Linked DNA regions of Homo sapiens. The protein of the gene in region 1 interacts with the protein of each later gene in a pairwise test. Each region holds a gene or a part of one and is shown in the gene's direction. Other genes may lie near its edges.

The links. Proteins that work in one complex are often made in the same cells at the same time.
Region 2: the proteins of BRICD5 (region 1) and ICAM3 interact in binary tests that used the Homo sapiens proteins (3 or more experiments, as listed by UniProt).
Region 3: the proteins of BRICD5 (region 1) and KLRC1 interact in binary tests that used the Homo sapiens proteins (3 or more experiments, as listed by UniProt).

The regions. Positions count from the first base shown.
Region 1 is NC_000016.10:2,208,753-2,216,423, reverse strand, and holds BRICD5 (BRICHOS domain-containing protein 5), read left to right. Parts: upstream 1-5,560; 5' UTR 5,561-5,590; coding exon 5,591-5,641; exon of another isoform or gene 5,642-5,730; coding exon of another isoform or gene 5,731-5,773; coding exon 5,774-5,902; intron 5,903-6,142; coding exon 6,143-6,298; coding exon of another isoform or gene 6,299-6,372; coding exon 6,373-6,474; intron 6,475-6,717; coding exon 6,718-6,871; coding exon of another isoform or gene 6,872-6,967; coding exon 6,968-7,062; 3' UTR 7,063-7,171; downstream 7,172-7,671. Other genes in the region: PGP (glycerol-3-phosphate phosphatase), read left to right, coding at 1,647-2,286, 2,371-2,696; MLST8 (target of rapamycin complex subunit LST8), read right to left, coding at 7,547-7,665.
Region 2 is NC_000019.10:10,336,288-10,344,530, reverse strand, and holds the start of ICAM3 (intercellular adhesion molecule 3 isoform 1 precursor), read left to right. Parts: upstream 1-4,906; 5' UTR 4,907-4,916; coding exon 4,917-4,992; intron 4,993-5,285; exon of another isoform or gene 5,286-5,582; coding exon 5,583-5,849; intron 5,850-8,243. UniProt on the Homo sapiens protein: ICAM proteins are ligands for the leukocyte adhesion protein LFA-1 (integrin alpha-L/beta-2). ICAM3 is also a ligand for integrin alpha-D/beta-2. In association with integrin alpha-L/beta-2, contributes to apoptotic neutrophil phagocytosis by macrophages.
Region 3 is NC_000012.12:10,445,191-10,450,671, reverse strand, and holds the end of KLRC1 (NKG2-A/NKG2-B type II integral membrane protein), read left to right. Parts: intron 1-92; coding exon 93-188; intron 189-704; coding exon 705-758; intron 759-1,283; coding exon 1,284-1,435; intron 1,436-3,039; coding exon 3,040-3,140; intron 3,141-4,009; coding exon 4,010-4,121; 3' UTR 4,122-4,644; downstream 4,645-5,481. UniProt on the Homo sapiens protein: Immune inhibitory receptor involved in self-nonself discrimination.

The DNA.
Region 1 (7,671 bases):
ACCTCTGGTCCCAAATACTTTGGAGGCTTAGGTAGGAGCATCACATGAGCCTAGGAGGTCAAGGATACAGTGAGCTGTGATAAGGCTACAGTGAGCTGTGATCTAGCCACTCCACTCCAGCCTGGGGGACAGAGCAAGACCCTGTCGCAAAATATATATATACATGTAAAAATGTAAAACTTCCGGCCGGGCGCCATGGCTCACGCCTGTAATCCCAGCACTTTGGGAGACCAAGGTGGGCGGATCACGAGATCAAGAGATCAAGACCATCCTGGCTAACACGGTGAAACCCCGTCTCTACTAAAAAATACAAAAAAATTAGCCAGGCGTGGTGGCCGGCGCCTGTAGTCCCAGCTACTCAGGAGGCTGAGGCAGAAGAATGGCGTGAACCCGGGAGGCGGAGCTTGCAGTGAGCCGAGATCGCGCCACTGCACTCCAGCCTGGGCAACAGAGCAAGAGACTCCGTCTCAAAAAATAATAATTAAAAAAATAAAAGGCCGGGCGCGGTGGCTCACGCCTGTAATCCAAGCACTTTGGGAGGCCGAGGCGGGCGGATCACGAGGTCAGGAGATCGAGACCATCCTGGCTAACACGGAGAAACCCCGTCTCTACTAAAAATACAAAAAATTAGCCGGGCGTGGTGCCATGCGCCTGTAGTCCCAGCTACTCGGGAGGCTGAGGCAGGAGAATGGCGTGAACCCGGGAGGCGGAGCTTGCAGTGAGCCGAGATGGCGCCACCGCACTCCAGCCTGGGCGACAGAGCGAGACTCCGTCTCAAAAAGTAAATAAATAAGTAAATAAAATAATAATAAATGTAAAACTTCCATCGAGCTGCACGGTTTTCATGCCCTTTACTGTAATGTTTTGCCTCAATTAAATACCTAATAATTGATGACGATGACGGCGAGCAATCACTGAGTACCAGGTTCTAGACAGTGTCCTTAGACCCTAATCCCCCAGCCTGGTAATGGCTGGTTCGTGTTACCTCCAAGGAACCGGGAACGCGTTTTTGCAAAGGACTGAGGCGCGTACTCACGCCTGCCGGGGAAGGAGCCCCGGGCTGGCTCGCGGGACTGGCCGGTAAGCGACCCACGTGGTGGCCCCGTGTCCCGAGCGCGTCCACGGCACAGAGGCACGGGCACGGCCGACGAAGGTGCCCCGGCCCCCTCCCGCGGCGCTCCTGCGAGAGCCCCGCCCATGCCCGCGGGAGAGACCGGCCAATGGACAGCCGGCCTGGCCCGGGTCACTCCGTGAAGGGCCTCGTCACCTAGGCTGACCACTCGCTTCCAATGGGTGAGCGGCCCGCGGCAGCCCGGGAACAGCGGCCTTGCGCCTGCGCTGCTCTCCCCTCTGGCGCATTTCCGCAGCGAGCGCTTCACTCCGAATGCCGGTTGGAGCCCTGCCAGCCAATCACCGGGGCGTCCCAAGGCCGGTAGCCAATGATCGCCCCTCTCCCCGCGCCGGGCCTCACCGATTGGCGCTGAGCTCCCGCAGCCCGCGGGAGGCGGGGGCGGATTGGCGAAGGTGCAGGCCAATGGGCGGCGGGCGCGAGGCGCTGGGCCAATGAGCGCCCCGGGGGCGGGGAGGGCGCCGCGGCGGGCGGCTGCGAGGAGCGGCCGGCGGGCGGCGGCGGCCGGCGGGCGGCGATGGCGGCGGCGGAGGCCGGTGGCGACGACGCCCGCTGCGTGCGGCTGAGCGCCGAGCGGGCACAGGCGCTGCTGGCCGACGTGGACACGCTGCTGTTCGACTGCGACGGCGTGCTGTGGCGCGGGGAGACCGCCGTGCCTGGCGCGCCCGAGGCCCTGCGGGCGCTGCGAGCCCGCGGCAAGCGCCTGGGCTTCATCACCAACAACAGCAGCAAGACCCGCGCTGCCTACGCCGAGAAGCTGCGGCGCCTGGGCTTCGGCGGCCCCGCGGGGCCCGGCGCCAGCCTGGAGGTCTTCGGCACGGCCTACTGCACCGCGCTCTACCTGCGCCAGCGCCTGGCCGGCGCCCCCGCGCCCAAGGCCTACGTGCTGGGCAGCCCAGCCCTGGCCGCGGAGCTGGAGGCCGTGGGCGTCGCCAGCGTGGGCGTGGGGCCCGAGCCACTGCAGGGCGAGGGTCCCGGCGACTGGCTGCACGCGCCGCTGGAGCCCGACGTGCGCGCGGTGGTGGTGGGCTTTGACCCGCACTTCAGCTACATGAAGCTCACCAAGGCCCTGCGCTACCTGCAGCAGCCCGGCTGCCTGCTCGTGGGCACCAACATGGACAACCGGCTTCCGCTTGAGAACGGCCGCTTCATCGCGGGTCCGTGCGCCCTGGGGCGGGAGGCTGGGGGGCGGGCGGCGGGCCCCCTCCCTGCCCTTTGACCCGGTCCCCTGTGCCCCGCAGGTACCGGGTGTCTGGTCCGAGCCGTGGAGATGGCCGCCCAGCGCCAGGCCGACATCATCGGGAAGCCCAGCCGCTTCATTTTCGACTGCGTGTCCCAGGAATACGGCATCAACCCCGAGCGCACCGTCATGGTGGGAGACCGCCTGGACACAGACATCCTCCTAGGCGCCACCTGTGGCCTGAAGACCATCCTGACCCTCACCGGAGTCTCCACTCTAGGGGATGTGAAGAATAATCAGGAAAGTGACTGCGTGTCTAAGAAGAAAATGGTCCCTGACTTCTATGTTGACAGCATAGCCGACCTTTTGCCTGCCCTTCAAGGTTAAAGATTGAGTGTCTTTAATCTGCAGAATAAAAAAAAAGAAATTGAAAACCAGTTACCCAAATTAATAGGTGGGGCTTAAGCATCTGCTCGGCTAAGTGGCTTCAAAGAGTGTAATTGGAGTTAAGCAAAGGCATTCATTGTTAACCTTGTAAGTACACGTTTGGGGGACGATTTTGTTTACAGATGCTTGTAATCGAAGATGCACTTTTAGGCTTGGAAGGCGTTGTGGGCTGGGTTCTGGGCCTTGGGTGGGGTTGGCAGGGGCAGGCTCTGCACCTGTCCGGGATTCAGGTAACCAGGGCCTGCCGATGGGACTGAGGCGGGTCTAGGGGTGTGTGTCCTGTATTTTATTGAAAAACTCATTCAGGGATCCAGCCCCTCAGGGGGCAGAGGGACTGATTATTCTGACTGTTGGGAGAGGCTTGCATGGACCAGAGCCCCATCAGTATGACTGAAAGTCCAGCGGAGCCTTCTGTGTCCCTGTGCCTCCCAGCAGGGTGGGAGTGGAGGAGGCGGCTGCTCCCAGGTGGCATCTCCCTGCCCTTGGGTGCAAAGTGCTGCCCTCACCACTCTCCCACCTCCCTTACTTCCTTGAAAACCACTCTGATGTCACAACTGAGTGTCTGTTCCGTTTCAGATACCCAGGGCTGCTGCCCAGTTCTGTAAACGCAGCCCAGCTAAAGCTCTGCTGTCTCAAGTGTGCATTTATACCCAGGTGATTTGGACGGAGCAGCTACCATGGCGTGGACGCCTTCACTGAACTCCGGGCTGCAGTGCAGGGAGCTCAGAGCAGTGCTGCTACCAGTTTTTAACTTTGAACAACTGTGTCAGGCAATGGATTTGAATTTTAAGTGTATTAATAGCTGTGCTCTGTGTCGTAGGCAAAATTCCACTGAAGGAGCCTCTGTGCCCTGCAGCCGGCAGCGCGGCTGAAGCATGTGTTGGCCAAGGAATGCCTGTCATCCAGGTGCCCTGCAGCCAGCAGCGCGGCTCAAGCATGTGTTGGCCAAGGAATGCCTGTCAGTCATCCAGGGCTCTGGGAGGGGACGAGAGTTATGTCCCCAAGAACAGGAAGTCCTTTACAAAGCATCCAGTCTCTTCCTGTCCTCCCCTTCCCTAGGCTGGGGTAGGGGTTAGAGACTGGTGGCCCAGGAGGTCACCTGCCTTGCCCTGGATTCCCTCTTCAGTGGCCAGCAGGACTTGGCAGGGCCACCAGCTCGCCAAGGTTCTGGGCGGGGCTCCAGCCTCTCCTGCCTGCTCCTTGGCTCTGCTGACCTTTCACAGGCCTGACAGCAGACTCAGCAGGGCCATCCCGGGATGCTGCACCTTCTGGCTGGCTCCCTACCAGCGCCTTTCCCTGTACCTGGCAGCTTCTCTCTTGGCCCCACAGTCACAGCACTCCACTTGGTCACAAAGACTTCAGAGCAATAAGAGGCGTCCTGAGCCTTCAGCACCTCCCAGGCCTGGGATATCGGGTTCAGAGGGTGCTGCAGAGCAGCATGAGGGTGGCTCCACCCATGAGGCTGGTGACACTGACGCTGGCTTGGCTAAGTTGGCTCAAGCCGGGTCTGGCCTGACAGGGTGCAGTCACACCAGGAGCGCATGGCAGATGCAGCCTCAGTGATGCCTCTCTTGCCGGGTAGGGGCTGGGAGTCCCCGTGCATCCTGTCTCTGGCCCATGAGGGGCTGCAGCACTGTGGGCGCCAGAGCACAGATTAAACTCTCAAACCCACACTGGCTCAGGTGTCCTTGCTCTCACCTTGCATTGGCCCGGGTGATGCCGTCTCACCACGGGTGGGAGGACTCAAAGTAGATGGGTAACTGGGGTTCCAACTCCAGAGCTGGAATGCCAACTGCCCACTCCCAGCCTGGTTCAGAGGAAGATGTTTTGAAGAATGAGGGAAAGCCAGGCACAAAGGGAAGCCAGGGAAGCAAAGGGCCCTGGAGTGAAGCTGGTGGGCTGCCGTGTCAGAGCGCCCAGGGCAGGGAGCAGAGCTCAGAAGTAATGCTGGCCCGGGCGCAGTGGCTCACACCCGTAATCCCAACGCTTTGGAAGGCTGAGGCAGGTGGATTACTTGAGATCAGGAGTTCAAGACCAGCCTGGCCAAAATGGTGAAAACCCATCTCTACTAAAAATACAAAAATTAGCGGGACTTGGTGGCATGTATCTGTAATCCCAGCTACTAGGGAGGCTGAGGCATGAGAATTGTGTGAACCCGGGAGGCAGAGGTTGCAGTGAGCTGAGATCACGCCACTGCACTCCAGCCTGGGGGACACAGCGAGACTCCGTCTCAAAAAAAAAAAAGTTGGGCTAGGCGGGCCCCCGAGGCTGGCCTGACTGTCCCAGGGGCACAGGCTCCAGCAGGCTGCCTGTCTGTGGTCCAGGCTTCAGGAACCCCCGGTCTTGGGTGTGCGGGGGCTGGGAAGTGGCTGGGGGTGCACAGTCCCACACCTGTCATTCACTGAACAGGCACGTATTGACAGCTTGTGGCGTGTCAGGCCCTGTGCCCAACTCTGGGAGTCAAGGATAACCTGACAGACTCAGGCCACTTTAGGAAAACGAAATCCACCCCAACCACACTTAGCGAGTCACCCTGGCCGGGCCTGGGCTGCCCTCCAGTCGGTCAGCCGGACTGGATTTCCACGCGGCCGAGCCCTACGCCTCCCAGACCCTGAGCTCCAGTCTGCACAGGCCAGGTGTCTGGAGCCGGGCCTGGTGACAGGCATCCCCCAGGTGGGAGGAGGGGCTGTCCTGGCTCTGACCTGGATATCAGATCCAGAGCTGAGGGGGAGGCGCAGGGTCAGGAGGGGAGGGGTTCTGTTCTGAGTTTCCCCTGGCCAAGGCTGCAGACAAGGGACGCAGACAATCGGCACATTGTGAGCAGGGGCTGCAGGATGGAACCAGCAAGCTGCTGTGCTGAGCGCCCCAAACCTGGGCCTACAGGGGTGAGTGCCTCCCGTTACTCCTGCAGCAAGGACCCAGGGGGTGCCCCAGGCCACCCAGCCCCTCCCTTCCCCAGCCCACTTGCTCCCTGATGTCTAACCCTCATGACCCTTCTGACCCTGATGCACGCCCAGGTGAAGACCAAGCCCTCCTGCGGGGGCTGGAGAGCCGTGAGCCTGCTCCTGCTGCTGCTGCTGCTGGTGCTGGCCGCTGTGGGGGTTGTGGCTGGAGGGCTTCTTGGCTCTGCTCAGGGCCCTCCCAAGGTGAGCCCCTCCTCAGCACCAGGGACATGGACAGTGGAAAGGGAGAAGGGAAGCTGGCATATCCCAGCCTCCAGCAGAGCAAGGGTGCGGAGCAGGCAGTGACACCACCTAGGAGCAGACAGCCAGAGGACCAAGGGGTGGAAGGGCCCACTCAGGGGTGTCAGGAGTCCTGCAGCCCAGAGCTGGAGGCTGTGCTGGGGTTGCACAGCTGCCCGGCTGAACTCCAACTCCCACTGCCAGCCAAGGCTGCAGACGCTGCGAATGACCCTCCCGAGCCCCCACATGCCCCGGCCCAACCAAACCATCCTGGTGGACGTGGCCCGGAACGCGGCGACCATCACAGTGACCCCACCTCAGAGCAACCACAGCTGGGCGGTGCTGTTCGACGGGCAGAGCGTGAGTGGGCAGGGAGGGGTCACCCTGGCAGGTGTCGGTCTGGGGGGCCCCGCCTCACCCCCCTGCCTCCCCAGGGCTGCATCTGTTACCGCCCTGAGGAGCACCAGGTCTGCTTCCTCCGCCTGATGGAGGACAGTGATCGGGAGACCCTGCGGCTGCTGGTGGATACCTCCAAGGTGAGCCGTCCTGCTGGGCGCAGGCCCGGGCCAGGGGCTAGACAAAGGGTCCTGTGTGCAGCCCAGTACGGGACAGGCTGGAGCTGTGGTTTCAGGGAACAGGAAGCTCTCTCCGCCCTAAGCCCAGGCTGCTGACAAGAGCTGAGGGTGGGGACATCACTGGGGGTTGGAGGGTACCCGGCCCTGCCAAGCCAGGAGCAGGGAGCAGCCCTGTCCCACCGCCCACCAGAGCCTTCTCAACAGGTCCAAGAGGCTTGGGTCCCCAGCCAGGACACCCACCACACCCAGGAGCTGCTGGCAGTGCAGGGGAGCCTCGAAGTGGACCCCGCCCAGGCGGGGGCTTTGGTGCAGCGCCTGTGCATGAGGACCCCCATCTACTGGGCCCGGCGAGCAGAGGGTGAGTCAGGACCGCTGTGGGGGAAGGCCAGGCCCTCGGGATGGTTTGAGGAGCTGGGGGCGGAGCCCTTGGAGATTCACGGCACCCTCGCCACAGGGCCCCGGAGACAGCGGCTGATTTATCTCTGCATCGACATCTGCTTCCCGAGCAACATCTGCGTGTCGGTCTGCTTTTATTACCTCCCAGACTGAGCCCCCGACCTGGCCCAGCCTGGCCCGTCCCCAATCCAGTGGGCTGGCCAGGCCACCTGCACCAGGGAGGACAGCTGCTGGCAGGGACTAATAAACCCTTCCACCTGGCCATGGTGGTGGTGTTCTCTATGGACCGAGGCCCTGAAACGCGGGCAGGGAGGGGCAGAGAACACACTAGCTTGGGGGTGGGCACCAGCCTCAGACCCCTCAGCAGCTTTGGGCCCTCGGCCGACTTTCCCAGGCAGTGCAGGCTAGCCCAGTCCAGGAGTGTGCAGCCTGGCTTGGGTCGAGCTCTGTCACATCTGGATAAGCAACTGGGGGCTGAGAGTCCCAGGGCAGCCTGGCCCAGCAGGTCAAGGCGCCACAGGGGGCCATCAGGTCCAGCTGGCGCAGGCCGGCAGGGGAGGGTCTGCTCTGACCTGGGTGCTGCATGGGTCCCTCCAGCTGCCACCACCTGCACCAGGCAGTCCCGAGGGGTCACAGGCTAGCCCAGCACACTGTCATTGAAGGCCAGGCAGACAACAGCCTTCTGGTGGCCGCCATACTCTCTCTTGATCTCTCCAGTCTCCACACACCAGAGCCGGGCCAGGTTGTCCGAGGAAGCTGGAG
Region 2 (8,243 bases), on another chromosome or scaffold:
TCCGCTTCAGCCTCCCAAAGTCCTGGGATTATAGGCATGAGCCACCGCACCTGGCTCGTCTTATTATTTCTATACATAATATATGCTCTTTTGGCTGGGCGTGGTAGCTCAAGCCTGGTGGCAGACGCCTGTAATCCCAGCTACTTGGGAGGCTGAGGCAGGAGAATCGCTTGGACCTGGAAGGCAGAGGTTGCAGTGAGCCAAGACTGAACCACCTCACTCCAGCCTGGGCAACAGAGTGAGAACCCATCTCAAAAAATACTGATAATAATAAGATCATCTTCAGAACTCAGTTCCTGGTGCATGAAGAGATTCAATACAGCCCCCTCACTCTCAGTTCTTAGAAAGAAGAATATGCCAGCCTGACCAACATGGTGAAACCCCCGTCTCTAATAAAAATACAAAAATTAGCTGGGTGTGGTGGCGCACGCCTGTGATCCCAGCTACTCAGGAGGCTGAGGCAGGAGAATCGCTTGAACCTGGGAGGTGGAGATTGCAGTGAGCCCAGCCTGGGAGACAGAGCAAGACTCATTCTCAAAAAAAAAAAAAGAAGAAGAATATGAAAGAGATAGGATCAATAACTACCTTCATTGTTTAATAGCCTAAGAGTGAAAGCCCAGCACAGTGGCTCACCCCTGTAATAATCCCAGCACTTTGGGAGGTTGAGTTGGGAGGATCACTTGAGCCCAGGGGTTCGAGAACAGCCTGGGCAATATGTCAAAAGCTCCTCTGTAGAAAAAATACAAAAATTAGCCGAGTGTAGTGGCACACACCTATAGTCCCAGCTACTAGGGAGGCTGAGGTGGGAGGATCACCTGAGCCTGGGAGGTCAAGGTTGCAGTGAGCCATGATTATGTCACTGCATTCCAGCCTGGGAGACAGAGCCAGACCCTGTCTCAGGAAGAAGAAGAAAAAAAAAAAAGCCAAATCTTTTTATCCCAGGATGTCTGAAAAGGACAGAGTCTATGGAGCATGGATGCAGAAAAGTAGTTATTCCTACCAGAAAAAAAAAAAATGAAATGTGGACACAGCCACTCAAGATCAGAGACTCAACCAGTGAAAGCAATTAGCTTCAATTTCATTGTCACCAGGAGGGCGCACACCAGAGAACCTGGGAGAAAGCCTGGGCTAGAGCCCTTAGCATTCTCAGTGTTACTGGTGCTGTGGTTCAACAACCTTTGTGGGAATGAGGAGAACCAGAGACCATCACCATCACACGTAAAAAGGATCCTATAGCAACAATGTGGCTGTCAAAAATCAGCTGGAGGCCAGGCGCGGTGGCTCACGCCTGTAATCCTAGCACTTTGGGAGGCCGAGGCGGGCGGATCACCTGAGGTCAGGAGTTTGAGACTAGCCTGGTCAACATGGTGAAACCCCGTCTCTACTAAAAATGCAAAAAATTAGCTGGGTGTGGTGGTGCATGCCTGTAATCCCAGCTACTTGGGAAGTTGAGGCGGGAGAATCACTTGAACCTGGGAGGCAGAGGTTGCAGTGAGCCCAGACTATGCCACTGCACTCCAGCCTGGGTGACAGACTGAGACCCTGTCTCAAAAAAAAAAAAAAAATCAGCTGGAGCTTAAATTATACATTGTTTGCAATCCAGACTGTACTTGCTTTCTTGTCAATGGCTTGAGATATGTGCAGAGGCCCCTTAAACATGTGTAGGTGACCTTTCTCTGTCGCCCAGGCTGGAGTGCAGGGGCACAATCTCAGCTAACTGCAACCTCCACTTCCCGGGCTCAAGCAATCCTCCCGCTGCAGCCTCCTGAGTAGCTGGGACTACAGGTGTGTGCCATCAAGCTTGGCTGATTTTTTTGTACTTTTTTTTTTTTTTTCGAGATGGAGTCTCGCTCTGTCGCCCAGGCTGGAGTGCAGTGGCGCAATCTCAGCTCACTGCAAGCTCTGCCTCCCGGGTTCACACTATTCTCCTGCCTCAGCCTCCCAAGTAGCTGGTACTACAGGCGCCCGCCACCATGCCCAGCTAATTTTTGTATTTTTTTTAGTAGAGACGGGGTTTCACCGTGTTAGCCAGGATGGTCTCGATCTCCTGACCTCGTGATCCGCCCGCCTCGGCCTCCCAAAGTGCTGGGATTACAGGCGTGAGCCACTGCACCTGGCCGATTTTTTGTATTTTTAGTAGAGACAGGGTTTTGGCATGCTGCCCAGGCTGGTCTGGAACTCCCGACCTCAAGGGATCCGCCTGTCTAGGCCTCCCAAAGTGTTAAGATTACAGGTGTGAGCCACCACGCCTGGCCCAGAAATACTCTTTTTTTTTTTTTTTGAGATGGAGTCTCACTCTGTTGCCCAGCCTGGATGGAGTGCAGTGGCGCGATCTCGGCTCACTGCAAGCTCCGCCTTCTGGGTTCACGCCATTCTCCTGCCTCAGCCTCCCGAGTAGCTGGGACTACAGGCACCTGCCACCATTTTTTTTTGTATTTTTAGTAGAGACGGGGCTAATTTTTTTTTGTATTTTTAGTAGAGATGGGGTTTCACCGTGTTAACCAGGATGGTCTCGATCTCCTTACCTCGTGATCTGCCCGCCTCAGCCTCCCAAAGTGCTAGGATTACAGGCGTGAGCTACCACACCTGGCCCAGAAATACTTCTTTATCAGAAATATTACTGGCGGGTGTAGCAGGGCACGCCTATAATCCCAGCACTTTGGGAGGTCGAGGCAGGCAGATCCCTTAAGCTTAGGAGTTCAAGACCAACCTGGGCAATATGGTGAAAGCCGTCTCTACAGAAAATTAGCCAGGCACAGTGGTGTGTACCTGTGGTCTCAGCTCCTAGGGAGGCTGAGGTGGGAGGATCACTTGAACCCAGGAGGCTGAGATTGCAGTTAGCTGAGATTGTGCCCCTGCACTCCAGCCTAGGCGACACGGTGAGACTCTGTTTCAAAAAACAAAAAAGAAATATGACTTATTTACAAATATTTCTTTCTTTTTTATTTTTAGAGACAGGGTCTCACTATTACGTAAGTATTATAAATTATATATATATGTTTGTTTGTTTGTTTGTTTTTCTGAGACAGAGTCTTGCTCTGTCACCCAGGCTGGAGTGCAGCGGCACAATCTCCACTCACTGCAACCTCCGCCTCTTGGGTTCAAGTGATTCTCCTGCCTCAGCCTCCTGAGTAACTGGGACTACAGGTGCCCGCCACAATGCCCAGCTAATTTTTTATATTTTTGGTGGAGATGGGGTTTCACTGTGTTAGCCAGGATGGTCTCGATTTCCTGACCTCGTCATCCACCTACCTCAGCCTCCCAAAGTGCTGCTAGGATTACAGACGTGAGCCAGTAAGTCCGACATCTTTTTTTTTTTTTTTTTTTTTTGTGGAAACAGGGTCTCACTGTGTCTCCCAGGCTGGAGTGCAGGGGCACAATCTCGACTCACTGCAGCTTTGACCTCCCAGGCTCAAGCGATCCTCTCACCTCAGCCTTCCAAGGAGCTGGGACTACAGGCACCAGGCCCATGCTACTGGTCCCTGCTGTTTACAAATACACTAGACTTGGGTTTTAGCTGCTCTCTCAACACCAGGTGGGAAATGGATTGTTCGGAAGGTAGAGGAATAGAGGAGGGACCTGCTTAGGAAGGTGGGGGTGCTCTAGATGAGAGAGGAGGTGCTGTGACCTCAAGGTCTGGGGAAAGTGGGTGAGTGCAGGGCCCCATCAAGGCTCTCAACAAGGCCTCTCTCTCTGGAGCTCAGATGTGAAGCCCAGAAGGCAGGTCAGAGGCCTGAGGTCAGAGGCAGGTCAAAGGTGGGGGTCCCACCTGGTCCCCTTGGCGCCTTCCCTTGGAATGCAGTGACCAGCTGCCTGGAAGGGTGGGCAAGGGGACAACAGGATGGGGTAAAGGCCAGTTACAAGTAGAATCCTGGAAGGCCGGGCGCAGTGGCTCACGCCTGTAATCCCAACACTTTGGGAGGCCAAGGCGGGCAGCTCACTTGAGGTCAGAAGTTTGAGACCAGCTTGGCCAACATGGTGAAACCCCGTCTCTACCAAAAAGTACAAAAATTAGCCGGGCGTGGTGGCACATGCCTGTAATCCCAGCTACTCGGGAGGCTGAGGCAGGAAAATCGTTTGAACCCGGGAGGCAGAGGCTGCAGTGAGCCGAGATCCCGCCACTGCACTCCAACCTGGGTGACAGAGTGAGACTCTGTCTCAAAACAAACAAACAAAAACCAAGTAGAATCCTGGATAGACAGTGGCTCAGGGACTCAGCTGTCCCCAAATCACCTACCTTAGCTCTTTGTGCAGGGGATGGGGGATCCCCAAGATCTTCAAAGATAGGGAGGTATCCTCAAGATCTTCAAAGGTGGCCAGGCGTGGTGGCTCACGCCTGTAATCGCAACACTTTGGGAGGTCAAGATGAGAGGAGGCCATCTTAAGGCCAGGAGTTCAAGACCAGTCGGGGCAACATAGCAAGACTCTGCTTCTGTTTCTGTTTTTGTTTTTGTTTTTTAATGTTTCCTCGAAATCCCACCTTAACATCTACACAATGGTGCCTACAGTTTTCCCCATTAACTTCCTCTCTGGGGACAGAATATTCCCCTACCCACCTAAGTTCAGCCAGAAGGAGATGCCTCATCCCCCCCACCCAGGCTTCCCAGTGCTGAGAACAAAAGAAACCAGTTTAGTTAGCATTTCCTGTGAATTCAAATGGGGGCCAGCAGTGCAACTGGGACCAGCCCATTCCCTGGGGGAGACTCAGCAGTGCTGGCCACTTTGCAGAGCCCCGTCTGGGTCCCCCACCCTGGCCCCCAAGGGCCACAGCATCCCCTTCCACCCACAGGCCTGGGCAAGGTGCAGTCCCCAGACTTCTGCAATCTTAACCGCTGTGCTTCCGTCGCAGTGGGAGGCCCCGCCTTTTCCCCTGCCTGCCCTTCGGGCACCTCAGGAAGGCACCTTCCTCTGTCAGAATGGCCACCATGGTACCATCCGTGTTGTGGCCCAGGGCCTGCTGGACTCTGCTGGTCTGCTGTCTGCTGACCCCAGGTGAGACCAGTCAAGCCGGGGAGGGCTGGAGAGGGCTGCGTTTTGGGGATCAGTAGAGGGTAGAGGAATAGAACGCAACGCTGTTCACATCCTGCCACACTGCGACCTGGCCGCTGACTCTGTATCCTCGGGAGAAAGTTCTGGTTCCTTAGTTCAGCCTTCAGGTGGTCAGGCCCCAGCATAGGCTTGTACGCCATCCCTCTCCCCTAACACACACACACACACCCCTCATGCTTCCTGCTCCATCTGAACTCCTGAAATTTGCCCTTTGCGTATGTGCTTCCCTCTGCCAGGATCACCTGTCCCTTTCACTTGCTAACTCCTACTTAGCCTTCAGTTTCGGGCTGCAATGGTCCCCGCTTCCAGGAAGCCTTCCCTGACTCACCTCCTCCTATGCTGGATCAGAGCCTCTTCTGGCCTCCTTCTGAGTTCTCCCCGGTCTCTGATGGATTCTACCTTTCCCACTGGACCATGAAGGCAGGAACCCTTCTGTCTCGGCACAAGGAGAGAGGTGTTAAATGGTGGGGCCTGTTGATGCGTGGGTTGGGGGACAAGGAAACAAACACCAGGACTTCTTCATGTTCCTGAAGGTGTCCAGGGGCAGGAGTTCCTTTTGCGGGTGGAGCCCCAGAACCCTGTGCTCTCTGCTGGAGGGTCCCTGTTTGTGAACTGCAGTACTGATTGTCCCAGCTCTGAGAAAATCGCCTTGGAGACGTCCCTATCAAAGGAGCTGGTGGCCAGTGGCATGGGCTGGGCAGCCTTCAATCTCAGCAACGTGACTGGCAACAGTCGGATCCTCTGCTCAGTGTACTGCAATGGCTCTCAGATAACAGGCTCCTCTAACATCACCGTGTACAGTGAGTCGACGTGTCCGGAGGTGGGACTGGTCTTGGGTAGTGGTGTGGGCAAGTGGCCAATGGCTCAGGAGAGTGGGGACCCTCAGTTTGCAAAGAATGGACCACAGTTCTGACCCAGAGCTCAGACCTGGACATTTGTGTGTGAGATACAAAGATAGACAGAGACAGAGACACAGAGACAGAGACAGAGATATAGAGACGCATCTCAATCTCATGCCAAGGCAGCAGTTGTGAAATCAATTAACTTGGGCCCCAACAAGCATTTTTTTTTTTTTTTTGAGACAGAGTTTCGCTCTTTTTGCCTAGGCTGGAGTGCAGTGGCACGATGTCGGCTCACTGCAACCTTCGCCTCCTGGGTTCAAGTGATTCTCCTGCCTCAGCCTCCCGAGTGGCTGAGATTACACATGCACGCCACCACACCCAGCAAATTTTGTATTTTTAGTTGAGATGGCATTTCACCATGTTGGCCAGTCTGGTCTTGAACTCCTGACCTCAGGCGATCCGCCCACCTCAGCCTCCCAAAGTGCTGGGATTACAGGCATGGGCCACTGCGCCCGGCCCCAACAAGCTTTTTTTTTTTTTTGAGATGGCGTCTCTTACTCTGTAGCCCAGGCTGGAGTGCAGTGGTGCAATCTCGGCTCACTGCGACCTCTGCCTCCCAGGTCCAGCTAATGCCCAGCTAAGTTTTGTATTTTTAGTAGAGACGGGGTGTTCCGCCCACATCAGCCTCTCAAAGTGCTGGGATTACAAGTGTGAGCCACTGCGCCTGGCCCCAACAATAATCCCAACACTTTGGGAGGCCAAGGCAGGAGGATTGCTTGAGTCCGGAAATTTAAGACCAGGCAGAGCAATATAGGGACACCCCGTCTCTACAAAAATAAATAAAAAATATTAGCTGGGCATGGTGGCACATGCCTGAAGTCCCAGCTACTTGGGGGACCAAGGTGGGAGAATCGCTTGAGCCCAGGAGTTCAAGGCTGTAGTGAGCTATAATTGCACCACTGCACTCCAGCCTGTGCAAAAAAGCAAGACCCTTGTCTCTTAAGCAAAAAAGGGGGTACCCCTTTCAGTCAGCAGTAGGCAAATGGAGGTTTTACATTTACACTTTTTTATACCTTTATTTTAGAGACAGGATCTCCCTATGTTGCCTAGGTTGGTCTCAAACTCCTGGGCTCAGGCAATCCTCCCACTTCAGTCTCTCCAGTAGCTGGGATTGCAGGCCTGGCTACTTTTTTTTTTCTTTTCTTTTCTTTTTTTTTTTTTTTGAGACAGAGTCTCACTCTGTCCCCCAGGCTAGAGTGCAGTGGCGCAATCTTGGCTCACTGCAACCTCTGCCTTCCGGGTTCAAGCGATTCTCCTGCCTCAGCCTCCTGAGTAGCTGGGATTACAGGCGCATGCCAACACGCCCAGCTAATTTTTGTATTTTTAGTAGGGACAGGATTTCACCATGTTGCCCAGGCTGGTCTCAAACTCCTGGCCTCAAATGATCTGCCCGCCTTGGCCTCCCAAAGTGCTGGGATTATAAGCGTGAGCCACCATGCCTGGCCTACTTTTTGACTTTTCTTTTCTTTGAGACGCAGTCTTGCTATTGTCCCCCATGCTGGAGTACAATGGCGCGATGTCAGCTCATTGCAACCTCCGCCTCCTGGGTTCAAGTGATTCTCCTGTCTTAGCCTCCTTAGTAGCTGGGATTACAGGCGTGTGACACCATGCCCGGCTAATTTTTGTATTTTTAGTAGAGACAGGGTTTTGCCATATGGGCCAGGTTGGTCTCAAACTCCTGACCTCAAGTGATCCGCCTCCCTCGGCCTCCCAAAGTGGTGGGATTACAGGCATGAGTCACCTTGCCCAGCCTTTTTTTTTTTTTTTTTTTTTTTGACATAGAGTCTCTCTCTGTCGCCAGGCTGGAGTGCAGTGGCACTATCTCAGCTCACTGCAAATTTTGCCTCCTGGGTTCAAGCGATTCTTGTGCCTCAGCCTCCTGAGTAGCTGGGATTACAGGCACGTGCTACCATGCCTGGCTAATTTTTGTATTTTTAGTAGAGATGGGGTTTCACCATGTTGGCAAGGCTGGTCTTGAACTCCTGGTCTCAGGTGATCCGTCCACCTTGGCCTCCCAAAGTGCTGGGATTACAGGCATGAGCCACAGTGCCCGGCCTGAGGCCCAGCGTTTTGTAGGTGTACTGGGGAGGGCACCCAGCCTGGGAGTGTCAAGTCTCCTGTGACTGTGCCGGAGTATCTTGAGAGGCTGCCACAGGGCTGGTGAACCAGGAAAGCCCTGAGTGTCTGAACCTGATTGGAGAGAACTGAATAATCCTGACCTTTTGATCCACCCACCCCGGCCTCCCAAAGCTCTGGGATTACAGGCGTGAGCCACCACGTCTGGCCATAAAC
Region 3 (5,481 bases), on another chromosome or scaffold:
ATTCCTGTGCATTCAGGTTCTCTTGTCTGTGAATCTTCTAAACGACTGTATCCACCTCTCCTTTCGCACTGTTCCCATTTCTCTCCCTGCAGATTTACCATCAGCTCCAGAGAAGCTCATTGTTGGGATCCTGGGAATTATCTGTCTTATCTTAATGGCCTCTGTGGTAACGATAGTTGTTATTCCCTGTAAGTCTATTTTCGAAGATTACAAGGGGAATTTTCACGTTAATGATTGAATGTGCCTCTAAACATTTCATATTTTCAGGGAATAGAGTTCTCATTGTAATGTATATATTTGGACTAAATGTGGAATGATTATTCTGAATTTGTCAAAGAATAAATGAAAGAATAATTGTTGAAAGTATTCGCTTCTGATGCAATCGTATGTATATATTTGGATTTCATAACTCAAAAATATGTTCTAGGAGTCTGAAAAACCTTACTGAGAAATAGAAATTAATTTTTGAAAGTAGTTAAATCAAGAATTATAAGAACTATATGAGATGGTGAAATTTGGTTCTTTAGATCTATGAAATACTTTTCCAAAAAACCACCATTACTTTATCAAATTTTTCTTAAAATCAATTTTATTCCATATTATTCTAACTCTAAATAATACAAAAAAATTCAAACAAAAACTTAAAATTATTATGATTGATTTAGATGCTAATTTTTTTACAAAGATTACTTTAATTTTTCTAGCTACATTAATACAGAGGCACAACAATTCTTCCCTGAATACAAGAACTCAGAAAGGTATATAATAATTTTTAAAGTTTTAATATTGTACAGTTTATTTTTTCTTGATCTTAGGCTGTACAAAAATAAAATTTTGGGTGAAAAATTATAAAATTTGGCAATAAGTGTTCATAAATAAAATTAGAGTAAGGCATTCACTTGTCATCAACTATAAGTAAAATCACTATGCTTTCTTTTTATCTGTTGTGTTCAAATTCTTACTGCTATAATATGATAAGATACAAGTTATTTATTGTTCCTTAAAAATCAGATTAGTTCATTGATTTTTCAAGACATGTATAGAGTGGATTTTTGTTTGCTGGTTTGCTTTATATGGGAACACAATTAGGAGATGAAAGGCTGACCCTTTATTGCGCATGTGTGTATAAGTGACTGGGTATTTTGACACTATATATTTACCAGCCCATGAAGATGTATAGATATGTTGCATACGTATAGGTTTATATGTTTGCAAATATGTGAACTAATTTTCATTTTTAAAAATTCATATTGGTCTAGATAGTAATTCATATCTTTATTTAGCACGTCATTGTGGCCATTGTCCTGAGGAGTGGATTACATATTCCAACAGTTGTTACTACATTGGTAAGGAAAGAAGAACTTGGGAAGAGAGTTTGCTGGCCTGTACTTCGAAGAACTCCAGTCTGCTTTCTATAGATAATGAAGAAGAAATGGTAAGATGTAAATGTTTTAAACACTTTATGAAAAGCTTCTTTCGGTCGATAATATATTTGTAGAAATCATCCATATGTGTGGGTATATACATTTAGCTTATATGTTTTCAAGTTTATGTAGTATTTAATTGATTGACTTAATAATGTTTTAAAATTCATATACTGCTAATGTACTTTTGATTATTTTCAGTTTTTGCTTTTCATGGAAAACCATGCTTCTAGAAATGCTTTCAATCCACAATACATTTTGCTATCTAATTTTATCGGGCATGATGTGATCTGGTCATGCAGATTGATCACAAAGTGAATGAACTCCTGTGATACAAGTCAGATCATGAAATAAAAGTTTCCAGCTCTAGTAGTTCCACCCCTGTGTATGCCCTCATCACTTATCCTGACTCCTCTCCAAAACACTGTCTTGACTTTTAATGTTATAAATAACGTTTACCTGCTTTTGAATTTATATAAAGGGAATCATACACTGTGAATTTCATGTCTGTGTTTTTCACTCCTATCTGATATTTATGCAATTCCTCCATATTATTGCGGTTATCTGTCGTTTATTACTGTTCACTGCTGTAGTATGTACAAAGAACACTAAGAATCCATTCAATCCTGTGTCTCTGGATGGGGAAGTGAGTCTCATGCCCTCAGGGACAAAGAGGACCCTGGGTGGTGCACTGGTAGTCATTGGGTTCCTTTGCTGATCCTCCTCACCCACATCCACTCTGGTGTCTCTTGGTATGAGAAGGAAGTACTTCCTCTGGCTGTATTGGTAGCAAGTCTCCTGGTAGATCATCCTTGCCAGTGGTACCAGCCTTGCCTGTTGTTGCGGAGGGGACTCCCCTTCAATACAGAACAGGAGTGAGCTTTGCTGGGCCTCCTCCTATTGCCAGGTTGGGTGTAGGGAAACAGCAGGCCTAGGTCACCTTCTTCTGTCGTGTGGAGGACTTAACATGCTCGCTCGGACACTTGGTTGATCCCTGATGCTAGGGTCCCAGACAATTTCATCTTTCTCTTTCCACCTTTCAGAGTTCTCCATTGCTTTTGTCTTTCATTAATCCCAGAGTTTATAGTTGTTTTTAGTAGGGAGTAGCAGAGAGAGACGAGTCTACACCACCTGGTCAGGATCACTGTTATTCCACCAAAACCAAATCAGATAAAAAAGTGAGGGCTTATCTAGTTAAAGAATGGTGTGGTACCCAGAAAACCCAATATGTAGCTTCCATGTCATTTATTTCTGAATCACAACCTCTAATTTCTCTTCTAAATCTCCAACTCTGAGAAATATAGCACAAAAATAGTTTGATTTAGTCACAGTATCTGGAGGAATGAATGCACAGTATCAGGAGACTTATTTAAATCCTTACTGTGTTTATTCAGTCAATTGGGGTAACTATTATAATGCAAGAATTAAAACTTCTTTATTAACATGAGAAGAATAAAAGTACTAAGTATAAACATTGACGGGTTCATTTATATCAAAATTATAAACATTTATGAAAGTTTTTGGCACTGCAAATAGTGGTTTTCAAATTTAATATATTGTTTTTGTAATGTTTTCATAATTATTATTTAAGTGAAAATTCTTTCTTTTCTTTTAGAAATTTCTGTCCATCATTTCACCATCCTCATGGATTGGTGTGTTTCGTAACAGCAGTCATCATCCATGGGTGACAATGAATGGTTTGGCTTTCAAACATGAGTAAGTTGTTTTGTATGGCGCTATATAACAATATATATATAAAGGATAAATTCAGAAGAATAATATGAATAAATCTATGTGGAATCATAGAGATGAAGAAAGATGTGGAAAGTTAGTGAAATGCTGACATAAATATTTTACAATAGACCATAGTAGTCCATATATTTCAACCGCTCATTGGTCAGCTAGTAACCTTCTTGATTATCAGGTGTCCAATCTTTGGCTTCTGTGGGCCACATTGGAAGAAGAAGAGTCTTGGGCCACACATAAAATACACTAACACTAACGATAGCTGACGAGCAAAAAAAAGAAAAAAAAAATCACAGAATGTTTTAAGAAAGTTTACGTATATGTATTGGGCCGCATTTGAAGCTGTCCTGGGTCACATGCGGCCCGTGGGCAGCGAGTTGGACAAGCTCGAGCTGGACTATCAGGGAATTGCAGTGCTTGTTTTTATTAAAAAGCCACACTTACTTTTTTTCTTAAGAATATCCTCAAAGCACAAGAGTAGTGCTGTTGGCATATTGCTATAATTTTGTTATTAGTAGTTATTGTTGTCAATCTCTTATTGTGCCTAATTTATAAATTAAATTTTATCACAGTTATGAATGTGTAGAGAAAACATAATCTCTCTATAGGTTCTGCACTATCTGCCGTTTCAGGCATCCACTGGAATCTTGAAACATATCCCTCGTGGATGAAGGGGGACTACTCTGTTGAGTGTTCAGAATAATGACTCTTACTAATATTATGAAAAATTTAATTACCCTTTTCCATGAAATTATTTTCTTACAGTACATGGAAAATGCTTTCGTCTCATGAATCATTTGCTTAAAATGTAACAGAATATGGATTTTTCTCCATTACAGGATAAAAGACTCAGATAATGCTGAACTTAACTGTGCAGTGCTACAAGTAAATCGACTTAAATCAGCCCAGTGTGGATCTTCAATAATATATCATTGTAAGCATAAGCTTTAGAGGTAAAGCGTTTGCATTTGCAGTGCATCAGATAAATTGTATATTTCTTAAAATAGAAATATATTATGATTGCATAAATCTTAAAATGAATTATGTTATTTGCTCTAATAAGAAAATTCTAAATCAATTATTGAAACAGGATACACACAATTACTAAAGTACAGACATCCTAGCATTTGTGTCGGGCTCATTTTGCTCAACATGGTATTTGTGGTTTTCAGCCTTTCTAAAAGTTGCATGTTATGTGAGTCAGCTTATAGGAAGTACCAAGAACAGTCAAACCCATGGAGACAGAAAGTAGAATAGTGGTTGCCAATGTCTGAGGGAGGTTGAAATAGGAGATGACCTCTAACTGATAGAACGTTACTTTGTGTCGTGATGAAAACTTTCTAAATTTCAGTAGTGGTGATGGTTGTAACTCTGCGAATATACTAAACATCATTGATTTTTAATCATTTTAAGTGCATGAAATGTATGCTTTGTACACGACACTTCAATAAAGCTATCCAGAAAAAAAAAAAAAGCCTCTCCTGGGATTATTTGTGACTGCATTTATTCTCTAAAGTAATTTTTAAAGATTAGCTTCTTTATAATATTGACTTTTCTAATCAATATAAAGTGTTTCCTTCAATGTACTGTGTTATCTTTAATTTCTCTCTATTGTATTTTGTATTTTGGGGGATTGAAGTCATACAGAAATGTAGGTATTTTACATTTATGCTTTTGTAAATGGCATCCTGATTCTAAAATTCCCTTTAGTAATTTTTGTTGTTATAAATAGAAATACAACTGATGTCTGCATTTTGATTTTATATCTACTTATTCCACTGATTTTATATATGTAAATCTATTATGTCAACTATTGATTTATTTCTGGGTGTTCTATATAACGAGCAATTTTATCTGCACATGATCACACTTTTATTTTTTTAATCTATATGCTATAACGTAGTTTTATTTTCATTTATTTTCACTGGCTAGGGTTTTATACCCATAGTTGAATAGAAGGTACAATCAAAGTTCTGTGTGTATCATATGTATCGTTTTCTGATTTTGGCAAAAAATACTTAAACATATTATTCATATTTACAAAGCTTGGTGTTGTTTTCATCCTATCTTTCTCATATCGAAGCAGTTTTATAATATTCCTATTTTCTAATAGATTTTATCAATTGTAACATTTTTATTAATTTGTAGCAGTTGGAATGATATATGTTGTATTTATATAACATTTTATAAACTACTTTTATTTTTTCAAATGTTAAACCAGCCTTTGTTTCTGAAATAAATCCATGGTGATCATTGTATATTTCCCTCATAAAATATCAGTGCTGGCCGGGTGTGGTGGCTGATGTCTGTA